2 separate regions of the Homo sapiens genome follow, and region 1 is linked to region 2. The links come from fine-mapping of genetic effects on gene expression. Tissue or cell type: cerebral cortex. Region 2 holds a variant in brackets; the other region holds the start of a gene. All regions are shown on one strand. Distances are between the middles of the regions.

Region 1 (8,101 bases), 150 kb after region 2:
CCTGTGCTCTCTGAAACATGTGCTGTGTCCACTCAGGGTTGAATGGATTAAGGGCGGTGCAAGATGTGCTTTGTTAAACAGATGCTTGAAGGCAGCATGCTCGTTAAGAGTCATCACCACTCCCTAATCTCAAGTACCCAGGGACACAAACACTGCGGAAGGCCGCAGGGTCCTCTGCCTAGGAAAACCAGAGACCTTTGTTCACTTGTTTATCTGCTGACCTTCCCTCCACTATTGTCCTATGACCCTGCCAAATCCCCCTCTGCGAGAAACACCCAAGAATGATCAATAAAAAATAAAAAATAAAAAATAAAAAAAAAAATAATAATAATAATAAAAGAAAACAAAAAAAAAAGAAGAGGCCACTCTAGGCTTTGAAAATATCTATAGTTTGATAAAGCCAAAGCATGTAATTTACAAAGACAATTTTCCACTTCAGTTGTACTTCGATGCCTAAGGAAAAGTCCCATTATTTTTGAGTAATTTAAAATCAAAATGATATTTTGGCCAGGCACGGTGGCTCACACCTGTAATCCCAGCACTTTGGGAGGCTGAGGCAGGCAGATAGCCTGAGGTCAGGAGTTCCAAACCAACCTGGCCAACATGATGAAAACCTGTCTCTACTTTAAAAAATACAAAAATTAGCCAGGCATGGGGATGCACACCTGTGCTCCCAGCCACTCGGAAGGCTGAGGCAGGAGAATCGCTTGAACCCAGGAGGCGGAGGTTGCAGTGAGCCAAGATTGTGCCATTGCACTCCAGCCTGGGTGACAAGAGCGAAACTCTGTCTCAAAAACCAAAAAATAAAATAAATAAAATACATCATTCTTCCCCACAAACCCCCTGTTTTCATCAAGAAAGCAGGTATTAGTGTAATGATTCTTAGCATTGTCACTTGATTTTTTTCTAAGTAATTTATAATTCTTCAGAGTGGTTTTTATCTCATTGACATTTTATTGGACAAAATTACCCTATGACACAAATTTATAAAATTTATACAAAATCTTATATTACAGAGGTAACTTTTTGCAGTGTTTTATTATGTTTTGGGATGCCAAAATACAAATAGTTTAAATGTAAAATTTAAACAACTATCAAAATAACACAGTAAAACCCTGTTATAAGCTAGCATATTGTTGCATAAATATAAGCACAAAGTCATATAATTTTTCCAAAATGTATTGATTTATTTTTTTAAAATCATATTTTACAAGTAACTGAAGAGATGGGTAATCCTCTCTCCTTACATTGTACCCAATACCAGTGGTATATATCACCAGTGTATGAGTGAAATCTGCTGATTTTTTTTCACTGAATTGATTAGTTGTTTCAACTTTATGTGAATACAGACTGAGAAGCCTTGATGTCACAAAAGACCAGAGCAAGCTTGGTTAGACTATACTTTAAAGATCTATACCATCATAACTAACTCTAATTTGGACCCCTCCAAAATACTGGCGCATGCCTGAATTACCTAGGTAAGGATGTAGAGCTGCTGTCTTGGCTTGAAGACGGAAATTATAGTTCGAAACACTAAGATATACCAGAGTTAGAAGAATGTTTTAGTGGAAAATGTCACATCAAGGACTCCACTGAAGATCATTTCTAAATATATCCAGGTTCACAGCCATGCTGCTTGCATCCATGTATGTCAGATTACCTATCTTTTTGCTACATACCACGATGCAGTATCATACTTGTTAATATTCCTTAAACAGTTTAGGCAAATTATCACAGACATAATATATATTTGGAGTAAATAAATATGGCCATTTTCTCATCAAAATCTGGCTGTTGGTGAAAAAAAAAGAGTTTTGCAGTTAAATTTTTGTTATAAAGTGTCATGTTGGGAAGAATATTCAGAAAAGGGGGACTACCAGTGAACTATTAAGAGTTCGTTCCATGGGAATTCTGTTCTCGATGTAGTTTCCAAAGAGATAATGCGACCTTGGCCTAACACTTTCATTTGACAGAATAAACAGAGGACCTAAAGTTTATGTATTTATTTATTTTTATTTTATTTTTTATTTTTGTGGAGACGGGGGTCTCGCTATATTGCCTGGGCTGGTCTGGAATTCTTGGCCTCAAGCTATCCTCCTGCTTCTACTTCCCTAAATGCTGGGATTATAGGCATGCGCCATAGCACCTGGCCTAGCCCTAAAGTTTAAATGACTTATGAAAGGTCAGGTCATATAATTTGTTGCCAAAACAAAGCTTCCAGAATAGTGTTTTTTCTTGTCCATAATTTTTATGTTTTTATTATTATTTTTTTTTGAGATGGGGTCTTGCTGTGTCACCTAGGCTGGAGTGCAGAGGTGTGATCTCGGCTCACTGCAACCTCTGCCTCCCAGGTTCAAGCGATTCTCCTGCCTCAGCCTCCTGAGTAGCTGGGATTACAGGCACCTGCCACCACACCAGCTAATTTTTGTATTTTTAGTAGAGACAGGGTTTCACCACGTTGGTCAGACTGGTCTCAAACTCCCGACCTCAAGTGATCCTCCTGCCTGAGCCTCCCAAAGTGCTGGGATTCCAGGCGTGAGCCACCGTGCCCGGCCTTGTCCATAATTTTTAAACACAACTTTTCCATTTCAGTTGTGACATATAATGCCTCAATTTTTGTTTTAAAACATGGAAATTGGACACAATGTTATTACTAAAAACTAATCTTTCTCCTTGTTTATTTATTTATTTATTTTATTTTATTTGAGACGGAATCTCGCTATGTCTCCCAGGCTGGAGTGCAGTGACATGATGTCGGCTCACTACAACCTCTGCCTCCCGGGTTCAAGCAATTCTTCGGCCTCAGCCTCCCGGGTAGCTGGGACTACAGGCGCGCACTACTGTGCCTGACTAATTTTTGTATTTTTAGTAGAGACGGGGTTTCACCGTGTTGGCCAGGCTGGTCTCCAACTCCTGACCTCAGGTGATCCATCCGCCTCGGCCTCCCAGAGTGCTGGGATTACAGGCATGAGCCACCACTCCTGACTCTCCTTGTTTACTTTTAAGCAAGAAAGGAAAATTAAATGTAGAACAATTATGATAGACTTGTAAAAGGAATAAACACCCCAGATTTGCAGGCCAATTCTACTCTGAATCCCAAAATACATAGTTTCTTCAACTCTAATGGGTCAGAGAACTATGTGGAAAGTTTTTTCCAGAAAAGATCTTTGATTAAAACACACACACACACACACACGCACACACACACACACACACACACTCATTTTGGGGTAAGAGATTTTTCCTAAATAAGTATAGCCATCTTGTTTCTATCATTTATAATTCAATCAGGTGCAAAGAGAGGACTATATAACCATTTCTCCCTTTAAATGAGAAACTGGGATACAAGTGGTTTGAGGTGGGGAAGAAATGATACATTTTAAAAACTCAAATGACAAGTTCTTCCTGGCTGGAGAGTGAGACAAGAGAAACCACAAAACCCCAGACTGTGCAATCTGTAAAGACAGTGATAAAGTGACTACTTCATAGATGAAGATGGACAACTTGAACTTCCCCTTGAGTTTCACAAGGGAGTCCTGTGTGTGAGAAGGAAGGAACATATTTGAGTGTAATGTGCAGTTGCATTTAGATCTAAGGAAACTTAAAATGAATTTAAGTTTCCTTAATTCAAAATGAATTTTTGAGCAGTTCTCCACGGTAACTTTAATAAGTCTCCATTTCAACTTTCTGTTCTCAATCCCATCTACAGCTCAAACATATGCAGTATCTGCCAGCCCTGTCCATGAATTCCTGAAGTCCCAGCCAAGTGCCTCTCAGCTCAAAAAGCCCCTTGCTTGCCAGGGGTCAGCCATGTCTGGAAGGCTCTGAAAGAGGTCTGCTGGGCAGTAGGACTGCTTCTGTGGATGAGAGGCCTCTTGTTGGACTGGAGAGACCAGGAGCTGTAAGAAACCCAGAAATAAAAAGTCTCAGATGGGGACAACTGCAAAGTACCAGGAGTTCCTCCCTCCTCTCCACCATATCCCACAGTTGGACATCTCCCCGAAAACCCCACCCCAAGTAAAATTTATTTGCCGTCTCACCCTCAAATAAGAATGAGTCAATCATTAAGTAATGCAATTATACAAGCATAGTTGTAAACAACTATATTGCAAGTATGCTGACATGCAAAGATGTGTTTTACCTTTAATTACCAGAAGAAAATAGACAACTTGAGTTTGAGCACCTAACTTGAAGAAGAAATTAGGAAATAATAGTCCCTCCCCACCACATCCATCATTCCCAACCCGTTCTGCCTAAAAATCGTTTACATTGTGGATTTTATTTGTAATTTTTAAAGTCTTATTTTAAATTAGGTCCCAAAGAAAGAAGCTGGCATTTCTTATTCTTTTCAGAGTGGTCTAAGAAAAAAAATAGGAAAGCAAACTCTTTCTTTTTTTCTTTTCTTTTTTTTTTGGAATCAATACCCGAGATAACAGCAGAAGCAAAAATCCACCGGTGCGTCAGCAAGCAGGGCACTCGGCCATTCATCTCCATCCTTCCTTCTGAGCTGTTCTCCAGCAGGCTCCGGCCGCAGCTCCAGGCCACTAGAGCAGATAGATAATGTAGGACAGAATGACCAGGCCTATGATGGCAAAGAACATCAGGATGAAAATATCCAGCATTGTGGATTCCTAGGCCGACCAAGCCCCTGGATTCTGGTGAACCGTGAGCTGTGAGCACGGAGGTTGCAGTCGGTGGAGAGAAATGGCTCCCCTTCACTCCACAGCTCAGCCCTGGTTCTTTCCCCTCCCCCTCCCAGGGGCCTGAGACTGAAGGATGCTGCAGCTCCACCAGCAGCTTCCTGCCCCCCCACCAACCACAGCCAACCAATCACAAAGCCTGGGGGTGGATAGCCAAGGAGATGCCAGATTTAGACCCACAGAACCGCAGAATCAAAGGGGCTCAATTTCTCCCCAGGAACCCAATCCCACCCCTTTGTATCTAAATGGAGCCTGCATGCTCTGGATGTAGGAGGAGATAGGATCCTACCCAGCTCCCCCAAGAGTGAATCCTCCTGACTGCCTTCTTCGCGTTTCCTCTCACACACCTCGGGCAGATTATCTCAGAAAAATCATGGTTGGGTATTGGGTGGGCCATTGGCAACTTCTAAAGGTCACATTATGGGGAGACACAGACAAAAGTTTCGTGTGGATCTCAGTGGGCTTCCCTGAGGGATGAAGCTAACATTTATACATTTCCTACACTGGGCCAGATATCGTACATGTGGTGCAATTTCAACCTCCCTATGAGTCTTTCATAGATGGGGCTCAGAGATGGTCAGAAACTTACCCTAATGGTTCATAGCTTAGATGTGTCAGAGACCAGCCGGGCGCAGTGGCTCATGCCTATAATCCCAGCACTTTGGGAGGCCGAGGCAGGTGGATCACAAGGTCAGGAGTTCAAGACCAGCCTGGCCAAGATGGTGAAACCCTGTCTCTACTAAAAATACAAAAGTTAGCCAGGCTTGGTGGTGCATGCCTGTAATCCCAGCTACTTGGGAGGCTGAGGCAGAGAATTGCTTGAACCCGGGAGGCAGAGCTGAGATCGCGCCACTGCACCCCAGCCTGGGCTACAGAGCAAGATTCTGTCTCAAAAAAAAAATAAAAATAAAAATTAGCCGGGCGTGGTGGCAGGTGCCTGTTATCCCAGCTATTCAAGAGGCTGAGGCTAAAGAATTGCTTGAACCCGGCAGGCAGAGGTCGCAGTGAGCTGAGACCGTGCCATTGCACTCCAGCCTGGGTGACAGAGCGAGACTCCGTCTCAAAAATAAATAAATTAATAAATAAAATAAAAAGTAAAAGGCTGGGTGTGGTGGCTCATGCCTGTAATCCCAACACTTTGGGAGGCTGAGGTAGGTGAATCACCTGAGGTCAGGAGTTCAAGACCAGCCTGACCAACATGGAGAAACTCCAGCTCTACTAAAAATACAAAATTAGCTGGGCATGGTGGCACATGCCTGTAATCCCAGCTACTCAGGAGGCTGAGGCAGGAGAATCGCTTGAACCTGGGAGGTGGAGGTTGCAGTGAGCTGAGATTGTGCCATTGCACTCCAGCCTGGGCAACAAGAGTGAAACTCCGTCTCAAAATAATTAATTAATTAATTAAAAATGTCAGAGACCAGGATTCAAAACTAGGCATGCTGACACCAAAGTCCATATTCTTCCTCTTGCGCCACACTGCTCCCCCTGTTGGTCCGGAAGGCCCCTACACCCCACGTGCACTGCTCAGCTTGCAGTGGACTGCTTTCACATCGATCCACCTACAGGACGAGCACCAGAGACCCCTCCTCCACCCACTCCTTCGTCTCTTTGCAGTCATTACCCACTGTTTTGTTTTCCTTCTTTCTTTTTTTATAGAGACGGGGTCTTGCCATTTTGCCCAGGCTGGTCTCAAACTCCTGGACTCAAGCGATCCTCCCACCTCAGCCTCCCAAAGTGCTGGGATTGCAGGTGTGAACCACCGCACCCGGCCTAGTTTTGTTTTCTTTGGTATCCTCTTCCAAAAGCTCAGCATAGTGTTGTACACAGAGAGGACACTGAAGAATTCCCCAGGGGTATCCCTGAAATTTAAAAAATTCAAGTGGTTTCTTCTGAGGGGGAAAAGAGAATTATTTTATTCTTTTTATTTATTTATTTATTTATTTATTTATTTATTTATTTATTTATTCTTAGACGGAGTCTTGCTCTGTCACCCAGGCTGGAGTGCAGTGGCACGATCTCAGCTCAGTGCAAGCTCTGCCTCCCGGGTTCACGCCATTCTCCTGCCTCAGCCTCCCGAGTAGCTGGGACTACAGGCACCCGCCACCGCGCCCAGCTTATTTTTTGTATTTTTAGTATAGACGGGGTTTCACTGTGTTAGCCAGGATTTTTGTGCCTTTTTATAAGCCTCAATTATTTTCTATTAAATTAAATCATTCCCTAGGACGTCTCTGAGGCCTAGTCTCCTTGGCCCCCACCCCAAATAATATTTTTTTTAAAGGCCTGGGGTTAAGATATATTGGTAACCCCCTCATAATGCAAGACCTCAGGAACTTAGGCCACTGCCAGAAGGAAATCCAGAAACTCCTCCCATTGGCCCATTTCCAGGAGGCAGAGCTTTCTGTGAGCAGGGAGTGGAGACTTGGCAGCAATGTCCCCCAAAGCACTGTTCCATCAAATAGATCTGAAGGTGAATGAAGCCTCCCGGGGAGTGGGGCAGGCCGACATGAGGCAAGCTTTGCCAACTAATTCCCTTCTATTGGGAAAGTATTGGGCTGCCTGCACCCCTGGAGGGGAGCAGGTGTCAGTGCTGTCTCTAATTATACCACCCAGGGCAGCCTTGGATGCTCCCCACATTGCCCCAGCTCAGCTGACTCTGGCCATGTCATTCTCCAGATTACAAATGCTCAGCTCAGGAGAGCCCTCCTCCTCTCCACCCTGCTGTGATTCTGAGGCTGGAGAATTCCTTAGTTCTGAGCCCCAAGAGAGAAATGCCCCTCAAGCAGCTGGACCTGAGGCTGATTGGCAGCACTGAGCAGGGCCAGATTCCCCTCTCTACCACTGTCCTCTTCCCAAGCCCAATGAGCAAGAGGGGAGGCCGCCTGGCCTTCTGGCCAGTCACAGACCCTGGGCACCTGGAGCAAAACATGGAGCCCAGGAGACACACATCTAAGAGCTGCCACAGACACAGGCACGCGGCCTGCCATGGCCGGGTGGCACAGCACCAGACTGTGAGCATCACATGGGGGTCTCAGGCCCCACTCTGCCACTAGCTGTGACTGCCACCAATCTGCTTTGCCTTTCTGGGTTTCAGTGAGCCCCTCTATAAGTAGTTACTTCTCTCACAGGGTTGTGAGGAAGAAGGAAGAAAGGGGATGTGTATTAAAGATTACATTCAGAAGGCACTGTGAATAGTGCTTTGGGTTGCCAGGCCACCTTACAGACAGCTTTATCCAGGTCCCGTCCCACTGTGGAATGCCCTGTCATCTCGTTCCTCAAATGCGTGGAGCTCCTGCTCTCTGCCTGGCAGCGGCAGAGTGCTAGAACTGCTCCCCAGCCAAGCTCATTCATTAATTCAACAGCTCCGCACCGCTCCTGGGCAGGTACCCGGGATTTAGAGATGA
Region 2 (8,101 bases):
TGGTTCCCAGCTGCCATCTTGCTGGGGCTCCATGTAATGCACATTGGCTCCTGAGTTAATGGATCACATGAGAATTCACACAGGAAGAAACACATGCAATGTTGATCAAATGAGTGGTCATTTTTCTGTTGTTAGTTGTCACTTCTTGTGGCTATCAAGGTGTTCTGTTCTGTTGCTTATAAGATAAGCCCTTCTGCACACAGTTGTTCTGGGTGAGTGCCTGTCTCTCTTTGCAATCAAATATACGGGCTTTGTGACAGCTACTTGCCGCTCAGAGGTCATCTGGTTCATTCAAGTGAGTAGCACTGGATTGCAAGTGAACAGCTCTTAAATCCAGCCCCCGTGCCTACTGCGCCCCCTGCCCTGCTGCTCCTGTGCCTGGCCTGTGCCAGAAGGGTTCACGCGCCCTCCAGCAACCTGGTCCCACTAATCTCTCTGTTCTCTGGCTCTGTCCTGCCCAGGCTGGGCCCCAGCTGTCGCTCCCTCTTCATTCGTACTAATTCCAGCCCCTTCACTCTGTGCAGCCTGGTAGCAGTTCTGGCTGCTGCTGGGATCACGTCTGGGCCGTTCCCCTCTCGGCTCTGCACATGGGACCTTTCTGCCTTGACTTCTTCTCTCCCAGGAGAGCTGTTTTCTCCCCATGGACCGAACATCAGGAGTGGGCAGTGAGTGCCCCCAACAAGCACTGGGGGCAACCAGAGCATCTTTTAAAACAATAACTTTTATTGTACATATTTCAGGTATACAGCATGATGCTATGGGATGCATATAGACAGTGAGATGGTTACCATGATGAAGCAGTTAACATATCCATCATCTCACAGTTCCCTTAGATTTTTTGTTCTTGTGGCAAGAGCAGCTAAAATCTACTCATTTAGCATGAACTCCACATACAGTACAATTTTATTACCTACAGTCCTCATGTTATACAGTAGATTCTAGCCTTGTTCATCCTACATACCTGCTACTTTGTATGCTCTGACCTTTAAAAAATCCCTTTCAACCCTTTGACTGTGGGATACACACCTGAAAGTATAATGTCTCCGACTAGGTGAGATTCCTTTGTACACACTTACAGCACCTTGTGATTTGCCGTCATAGACCTCGTGACAGTTCTAATTCTGTAGTGATTTTTGATTATCTGTTTAGTGTCTGTGTCCCCATATGAGTCTAAGCCCTAAGAAGGCAGGGACTAGGTCTCACTGCTGAATCCCCAGCACCCAGTTTAGGGCCTGACCTTCTAGTGAGAAGGAAGGAAGCTAGGGAGGGAGGAAGCGAGGGAGGCAGGGAACAAGGGAGTGAGGGACAGAAGAAGGAAAAAAGGAAGGTAGGTAGGGAGGGAGGAAGAGATGGTGGGGAGGCTGAGGCAGGAGGATCACTTGAACCCAGAAGTTCGAGGCTATAGTGAGCCATGATCAGGTCATCACACACCAACCTGGGCAACACAGCGAGACCTCATCCCTTAAAAAAAGAAGTTAGGAATTGGGGCTAGACTGGACCAAGGGAGGTGGCATTAATGACCTTAAAGGTCTCCTCAAAGTCAGGGGCTCCATAGTTCTGTAAATACCAGGAATTCAGAGTTGCACCCTTTGGAGCCCAAGGAGAGGCTCGGTGCTGAGCGGCCACTGCCTTCTCTCTTGCAGCCTGCCTGCAGCATAGGAGCTGTGACGCCTGCATGTCCTCAGACCTGACCTTCAACTGCAGCTGGTGCCATGTCCTCCAGAGGTTTGTGCCCAGGGTTACCTGCTGACTCCCACTGGCCGACTGTGGAGGGGAAGAGGGTGGCATGGCCCCGTCCTGGCCTCACTGCCCACAGTCAGCCAACATGAGAGTATCTCTGGCCAGTACCACTCTGACTCTTGGGACAAGAACATGGCCTGGGGGCTTCTGGAAGACCATTTAGGGATTCCAGCTACTCAGGCTCCCTCCTCACACCCAGGAGGAGAGGGTTCATCCTGGAACAGGGCTTCTCGGAGTGTTCCACAGCTGTGGGCATTAGACCCTGGGCTCCAGTTAAACACACTGGATTCCTGGGACCCATCCCAGACCCTCTGTATCAGGATCTCTGGGAGAGAACCCAGGAAGCTGCATTTTAACATCATGCTTCATCTGCAAACAAGTGTGAGAACTGCCAGTTCAGAGACAAAGTCTGGTCCAAAGACCCATGACCCCAAAACACCACCTCAAGATCTTTCTTGGGCTGCAAGGGATTTTTCTGAAGACCAGGGGTGTGGACTACAGGCATCCATGGAAAGTTGGGAGAGCTAAAAAGCTGTGTTTGCTTGCTTTTAGAAGCTCAGAAAATTCTGGGTGAGATTCAGTTTCAGTGATAATGTTCTTAAATCCATCTCCTCTTCCACTCCTTGTTCTGAAATCATTTCCTCACAGATTAGACTCAGCATTCAAGCTCTGTTCCCTGTCCAAGATAAATAAATGACAGGAGGAGGGGGAAGAAAAAGATTTCCTTGGGGACTAGAGTTCTCATGAGAGTGGGAAGTCCTATGAACTCCAAGGGCTTTTAAGGCAATCTTGAAAATTGCTAAATTATAGTCTCTGAGTTCCTGTGCAGCTGTCGTGCTGCTCCTTTCCAATGCTCCTTTCCAGTGCTTTTTTTTTTTTTGAGAGAGTTTTGCTCTTGTTGCCCAGGCTGGAGTACAATGGTGTGATCTTGGCTCACTGCAACCTTTACCTCCTGAGTTCAAGCGATTCTCCTGCCTCAGCCTCTTGAGTAGCTAGGATTACAGGCACACACCACCACACCCAGCTAATTTTTTTGTATTTTTCTAGTAGAGATGGGGTTTCACCAAACCAAGAGTTTGGCCAGGCTTGTCTCAAACTCTTGACCTCAGGTAATCCATCTATCTCGGCCTTCCCAAAGGCGTGAGCCACTGCCCCGGCCCCAGTGATTTCCTTTGCCTCTGCACCATGGCCCACTCTGGAGTCTAAGAGTAACATTAATTCCAGGATTCCTTTGCTCCTTTCCAATATCCTGCTGCAAATGTAGAAGTTCTCGCCTTTATAGGCAGCCTGCCTAGCACACAGGACACAGCTCTGGGCCCAGAGGGGATGGGGTGTGCCCATCAGGTCTCCCAGGTGTTCTTCCCACCAGCTGTGCTTTTATTCACTCTCTTGGGGCCTCAGATTGTTTACCCTGTAAAATGGGCTGGGGTCATGTGATTCAGGAAGATGTGGGAACAAACACACTGTTATTTAAACTCCTCAAGCAGTTTTTGTTTTGTTTTGAGACAGGGTCTTGCTCTGTCATCCAGGCTGGGGTGCAGTGGTGCAATCACAGCTCACTGTGGCCTCAACCTCCTGGCTCAAGCAATCCTCCTGCCTCAGTCCCCCCTGTAGTTGAAACCACAGGTGCACACCACCACACCCGGCCATTTTTCTAATATTTTGTAGAGATGGGGTCTCACTTTGTTGGCCAAGCTGGTCTTGAACTCCTGGGTTCAAGTGATCTGCCCTCCTCGGCCTCCCAAAATGCTGGGATTACAGGTGTGAGCCACTGCACCCAGGCTATCAAGATATCAAGAAGCATTTTTTTTTTTTTTGAGACGGAGTCTCGCTCTGTCACCCAGGCTGGAGTGCAGTGGCGCGATCTCGGTTCACTGCAAGCTCCGCCTCCCGGGTTCTGGCCATTCTCCTGCCTAAGCCTCCCGAGTAGCTGGGACTACAGGCGCCTGCAACCACGCCTGGCTAATTTTTTGTATTTTTTTTTTTTTTTTTAGTAGAGATGAGGTTTCACCGTGTTAGCCAGGACAGTCTCGATCTCCTGACCTCATGATCCGCCCGCCTCGGCCTCCCAAAGTACTGGGATTACAGGCGTGAGCCACCACGCCCAGCCGCAAGAAGCATTTTTACAAAGCATTCAGCATCCTTCGCATGAGACTCACAGAGCCTCAGAAAGAATATGTAGGATAGACCCCAGGTTGGTTCTTCCTGGAGCAGAGCGTTGCAGAATAGTCTGCAGACTGTGAGGCTCTCCTTATACCTGGAGGGCTTGTAAAATGCAGATTCCTGGGCCCCATCCCACTGAATATGATCCTCTGGAACCAGGATCCCAGAAATCTGATTTTTGAAGTGGTCCCTCTTGTGTACTTTCAAATTTGAGAACCATGGTCTAAGCAATGGAGAGATGGCCTCAGATGAGCCCTGGGATCCTGGGGCTGGCTGCCACCACATGACTCAGCTTTCACAAGCGCTGAGCCATGAGAACTGCAAAATGGGTCAGATGACAGCCAAACTCTCCCATCAACACAACCCCCATTTAAAGCATATGCCCAAATTCAGAGACTATGAGTTAAATGAGGGTTGAGCCCTCCTCAACATTAGGAGGTTGGTCAGGCTGGGGGAAGGGCAAGGCCTCTGACTGTGTGCATCTGCAGGAGTTGTGTCAGCAAAGAGGAGCACAGAGAAACTCCACCTGGGGGAGCATGGCTGGTGCAGGCTGAAAATCATCCCATCCCCAGGCGCCCCATGGGCCTGGGCTCACTCCTGCACATTGTCCCTTCTTACAAGCTCTCTGGAGCCTCAGCTGCAACTGAGAGCTGAACCTAGGTCCCTAAAAACCCGGAGGGCAGGGCCAGCTGACATGGTCT[C/G]TCTGCCAACAGCTGCAGTCAGTCCCTGCATGGTTCTCTGCTCCCCTCCCCTCCACCCACTTTGCCTTTCACAGCCTCCCAGAGCTTTTCTCCTTGCTCTTGGGCTGGAATGGATTTAAACAATTTCGTCTCTCACGGCAGATGCCTGCCTGCCCCCGCCCCGCCATGACCCACTCTGGAGTCTAAGGGTAATGTTAATTCCAGGATTAGCTCCAGAAATGGGGGTCATAAACCCATACCAAAGGCTCAATCTTTGAAAGAATCAGTTAGCACAGTCTAAAAGAAACTATTTTTTTTTTTTAAGAGACAGGGTCTTGCTCTGTCACCCAGGCTGGAGTGCAGTGGTGCCATCATAGCTCACTATAGCCTTAAATTCCTGGGCTCAAGCAATCCTCCTGCCTCAGCCTCTCAAAACGCTGGGATTACAGGCATGAGCCACCACACCCAGCCCTAAAAGAAACTTTAGTTCTCAGCCTCCAATAGCCTTCCTAATCCTCCATCCCCCAAAGTAGTGGGCATAGAGGACCTGACAGAAGGAGAGTGTGGCTGGCTCAGTTCAGCCATCCCTGCTGCAGGAGGAGCAGCTCAGAGCCCAGAGGCATCTGCAGAAGGAAAGACTGACAGCTCCTGGCAAGCCTTGGCCCTTGGCCTCACCAAACCTCAGTGGGTGCTGGTGCAGTTAACCTGCTGAGAATTCCTTCTTGGCACTGGTGGTTCATGATGTTATTCTTCCCATGCAGACATCCCTGGGCTTGAGTAGGGCTTGGTGGGTTCCCCTAGCACCAAAGAGTAAAGAACGAAAAGTTGGGAATGATGCATGGAGAACATTCTCTGGTGCATCGTCATGCCCCCATCCTTTCCCTACAGGGGCGCTTGGTGTCTTCCAGCCCAGCTGAGCTGTCCAATGCCCTCTCCGGAGACCCTTGTCAGCCAGTTGTCTCCCAGCCTCTCTGGCAGGACCGTCAGAAATGCCCTTGAATGATCACATGGGGAGGTGTTGACTAAGTCTGCTGAGGCCTACCTTTAGCCCTACTCTCTTTCCCAAGTTTAGGTCCCTCAACAACCAGGATGAAAACACGTATGTGAATTGCCTGGATTCTCAGCAGTGTCACGGCAGCTCAGAGTCAAGGCGACCTTGAGGATCACTGGAGCTCATGCAGTCCTGCTAGCCCCTACACCTACTCACATGGGCAGATGTGGCCTTGGTCCTGGGGAGCTGGGTGGGAAGGAAGGCAGGGATGCCACAAATACCTTCATCTTCCGGGGAAGTAGAGGGAATGGGAGTGCCTGACTACCTCAGCCTGGGGACCTTGGCTCCTCTTCTCACTATCAGCAGAGAGCTGTTACTGAACAGTGAAAGGGGAAGGCTTCTTTGTCAATCCCATCATAACTCTGTCCTTTTGGTCCTCCTGCAGATGCTCCAGTGGCTTTGACCGCTATCGCCAGGAGTGGATGGACTATGGCTGTGCACAGGAGGTGAGAAGCATAAGTATCTGCTGCAACTCCTGTGCCAGGTGGTGGGGAACAGGAGGGCAGCCAGTAGGGCCTGCCCCTGGAAACTCTTCTCAAGGTGGCATTAGCTCTTGGCAATATCCTCCCTTCCATCTAAGATTTGTTTTCCAGACTGCCTTGAGCCAATCAGACCCACTTTGGAAGGTTTCAGAGGGCTCTGTGGGTCTCTGAGACGAGCATTCTGATGCCTTGACCTTAAGTGGGCAGCTCTCAAGGAATTCTTTTGGTGCATGCAGAGGGGATGTTGGGCATGGCCTCAGCCACTGCTGGCTCCTCTGGGAGACTGTGCACCTGCTGACCTTAATGATGCACCTGCTAAGCCTCTGGTCCTCTGGCTTTTGAGGAAGGCAGTCATTCTGGGAGTGAGAAGGGTGGTTCCAGGCATCTCCTCTTTAGAATCCCATCCAGGTTCCTTCTCACTGCAAGAATTTTCCAGTACACTCAACACTGATTCTAGGTGGAAAGCATCCTATTCTCACACCATAGACTAACATAGATGGGTCTATTCATCTGTGCCCTCTTTTTTGCCCCCTCCCTTTATATCTTCTTGCAAAGCAAGCATGCTGCATGTGCCAAGCATGTCACTGTGAGTTGCCCTACCCTCGCTCTTATTTAACCTGAACCAAAAGCTGGGGGCCATTGCCCCCATTGATCGATCACAGGGGAAAACTGGGGCTCAGAGAAGTTTAATGAATTGGCCTGCATCTCGCTGCTAGAAGGTGACGGGCCCAGCATTTAAATATCAACTCTCCAGACCCTGTGGCCATACACTTACCACAGTCTATTTATTAGTCTGAGTCTGGGCTTTAAAAAAACCCTGTCCAGCCGCCTACTTTTGAAGTTAGCTGTTGGTGACCGTTCAGATTTGCTCTATTTATTTAAGATTGGCATCTCAGCCCCTTCCTTGAGGAAGGATTTGAAGCAGCTGACAGATAAATTGCCCTGTAAGAGAAGATGCTTTCAGGATGAAGGGAAAGGTGTAAATGCATTCAAGACACAGCACTGGCTCTCTCCTGCAGGCAGAGGGCAGGATGTGCGAGGACTTCCAGGATGAGGACCACGACTCAGCCTCCCCTGACACTTCCTTCAGCCCCTATGATGGAGACCTCACCACTACCTCCTCCTCCCTCTTCATCGACAGCCTCACCACAGAAGGTAAGTTCTGAGCCCAGGAGGGGAGCAGAGAGGAGGCCAGGAAGGAGAGCTACCCACCCCTCTGGGGCCCCCTCTCTGTCCCTGACAGGGATGATCTCATGGGATGGGAACTGCCCCATCCTTTTATAGCTAAGGGGGCCTGAAGTTCAGACAGTTTAGGTCACTTGCTGGTGAGAAGCAGAGCCAGATTTAGAACTTGAACTCTACTCCTGGGCTCTAACCACTGTACTGGCCCACATCAGGGCTACAGACAATTCACTGTGAAGAGGGGAAAAATTAATAGCCCAGGCCAGTGCCAGGTATTTTATATACCTTATCTCAGCTAATCTTAATAGCAGTCCTCACAGAACCTGAAAAGGCTCATCCCTGTAGCAGGTATGAACTCAGTCCATACACTCAGGCGTGAGAGAAAGGCTGCCTTGTTTTTCTGTATGATCACCTGACTTCTCACTTTCAGGCCCTGGAGTGATGGATGGGGAATTCCACCTCAGCTGTCCATCCACCCTGACTATTCAGGTCTTGCAATCTAGGGGCTTCCCTGCTACCTGGAGGCCTGGGGGTCTTGGTTGAAGCTGCCAGAGGTCCATCCCCGTGAATGCACCAGGCGGTGTCCCAGGAAGCCTTGTGCAGGCTCCTCCGGTCCTAGGCCTCAAATCTCTTCCCTTTCTCCCATGCCCCCTCCAGGATTCTGTAGCTATGTCTGAGACATTCCTCTCCCTTATCCTTTTTCAATACCCTGCATCTCGGCCAGGCACAGTGGCTCACACCTGTAATCCCAGCACTTCGGGAGGCTGAGGTGAGCAGACCACTTGAGGTCAGGGGTTTGAGAC

Alleles and levels. Positions count from the first base shown, and alleles are read on the strand shown. Sizes are in standard deviations (SD) of each study's normalised expression.
For the expression in cerebral cortex of the gene that starts at base 4,702 in region 1, C is the low allele of the variant in region 2 and G is the other (small effect, 0.17 SD a copy in GTEx).

What was found. PIP is the estimated chance that this variant, and not a neighbour inherited with it, causes the effect.
Region 1: it holds the start of LASP1NB, and the variant in region 2 is fine-mapped to the expression of LASP1NB in cerebral cortex (GTEx, PIP 0.98).

Annotation. Positions count from the first base shown.
Region 1 is chr17:38,922,215-38,930,315 of GRCh38, reverse strand. It overlaps LASP1NB (LASP1 neighbor), which reads right to left and starts at 4,702. Exons shown (of 2, transcript NM_001414697.1): 1 at 4,425-4,702; 2 at 935-3,899. The coding sequence starts at 4,622. The coding sequence ends at 4,545. RefSeq lists enhancers at 1-77, 78-623, 7,707-8,101.
Region 2 is chr17:39,077,083-39,085,183 of GRCh38, reverse strand. It overlaps PLXDC1 (plexin domain containing 1), which reads left to right. Exons shown (of 14, transcript NM_020405.5): 9 at 1,644-1,725; 10 at 6,020-6,080; 11 at 7,136-7,271. It also overlaps the pseudogene RDM1P5. Among named protein-coding and RNA genes, the nearest start is that of LINC02079, 54 kb to the right of the region's middle. RefSeq lists enhancers at 1,216-1,716, 4,097-4,166, 4,347-4,406. The variant C/G (reference allele first, on the strand shown) is at 4,605.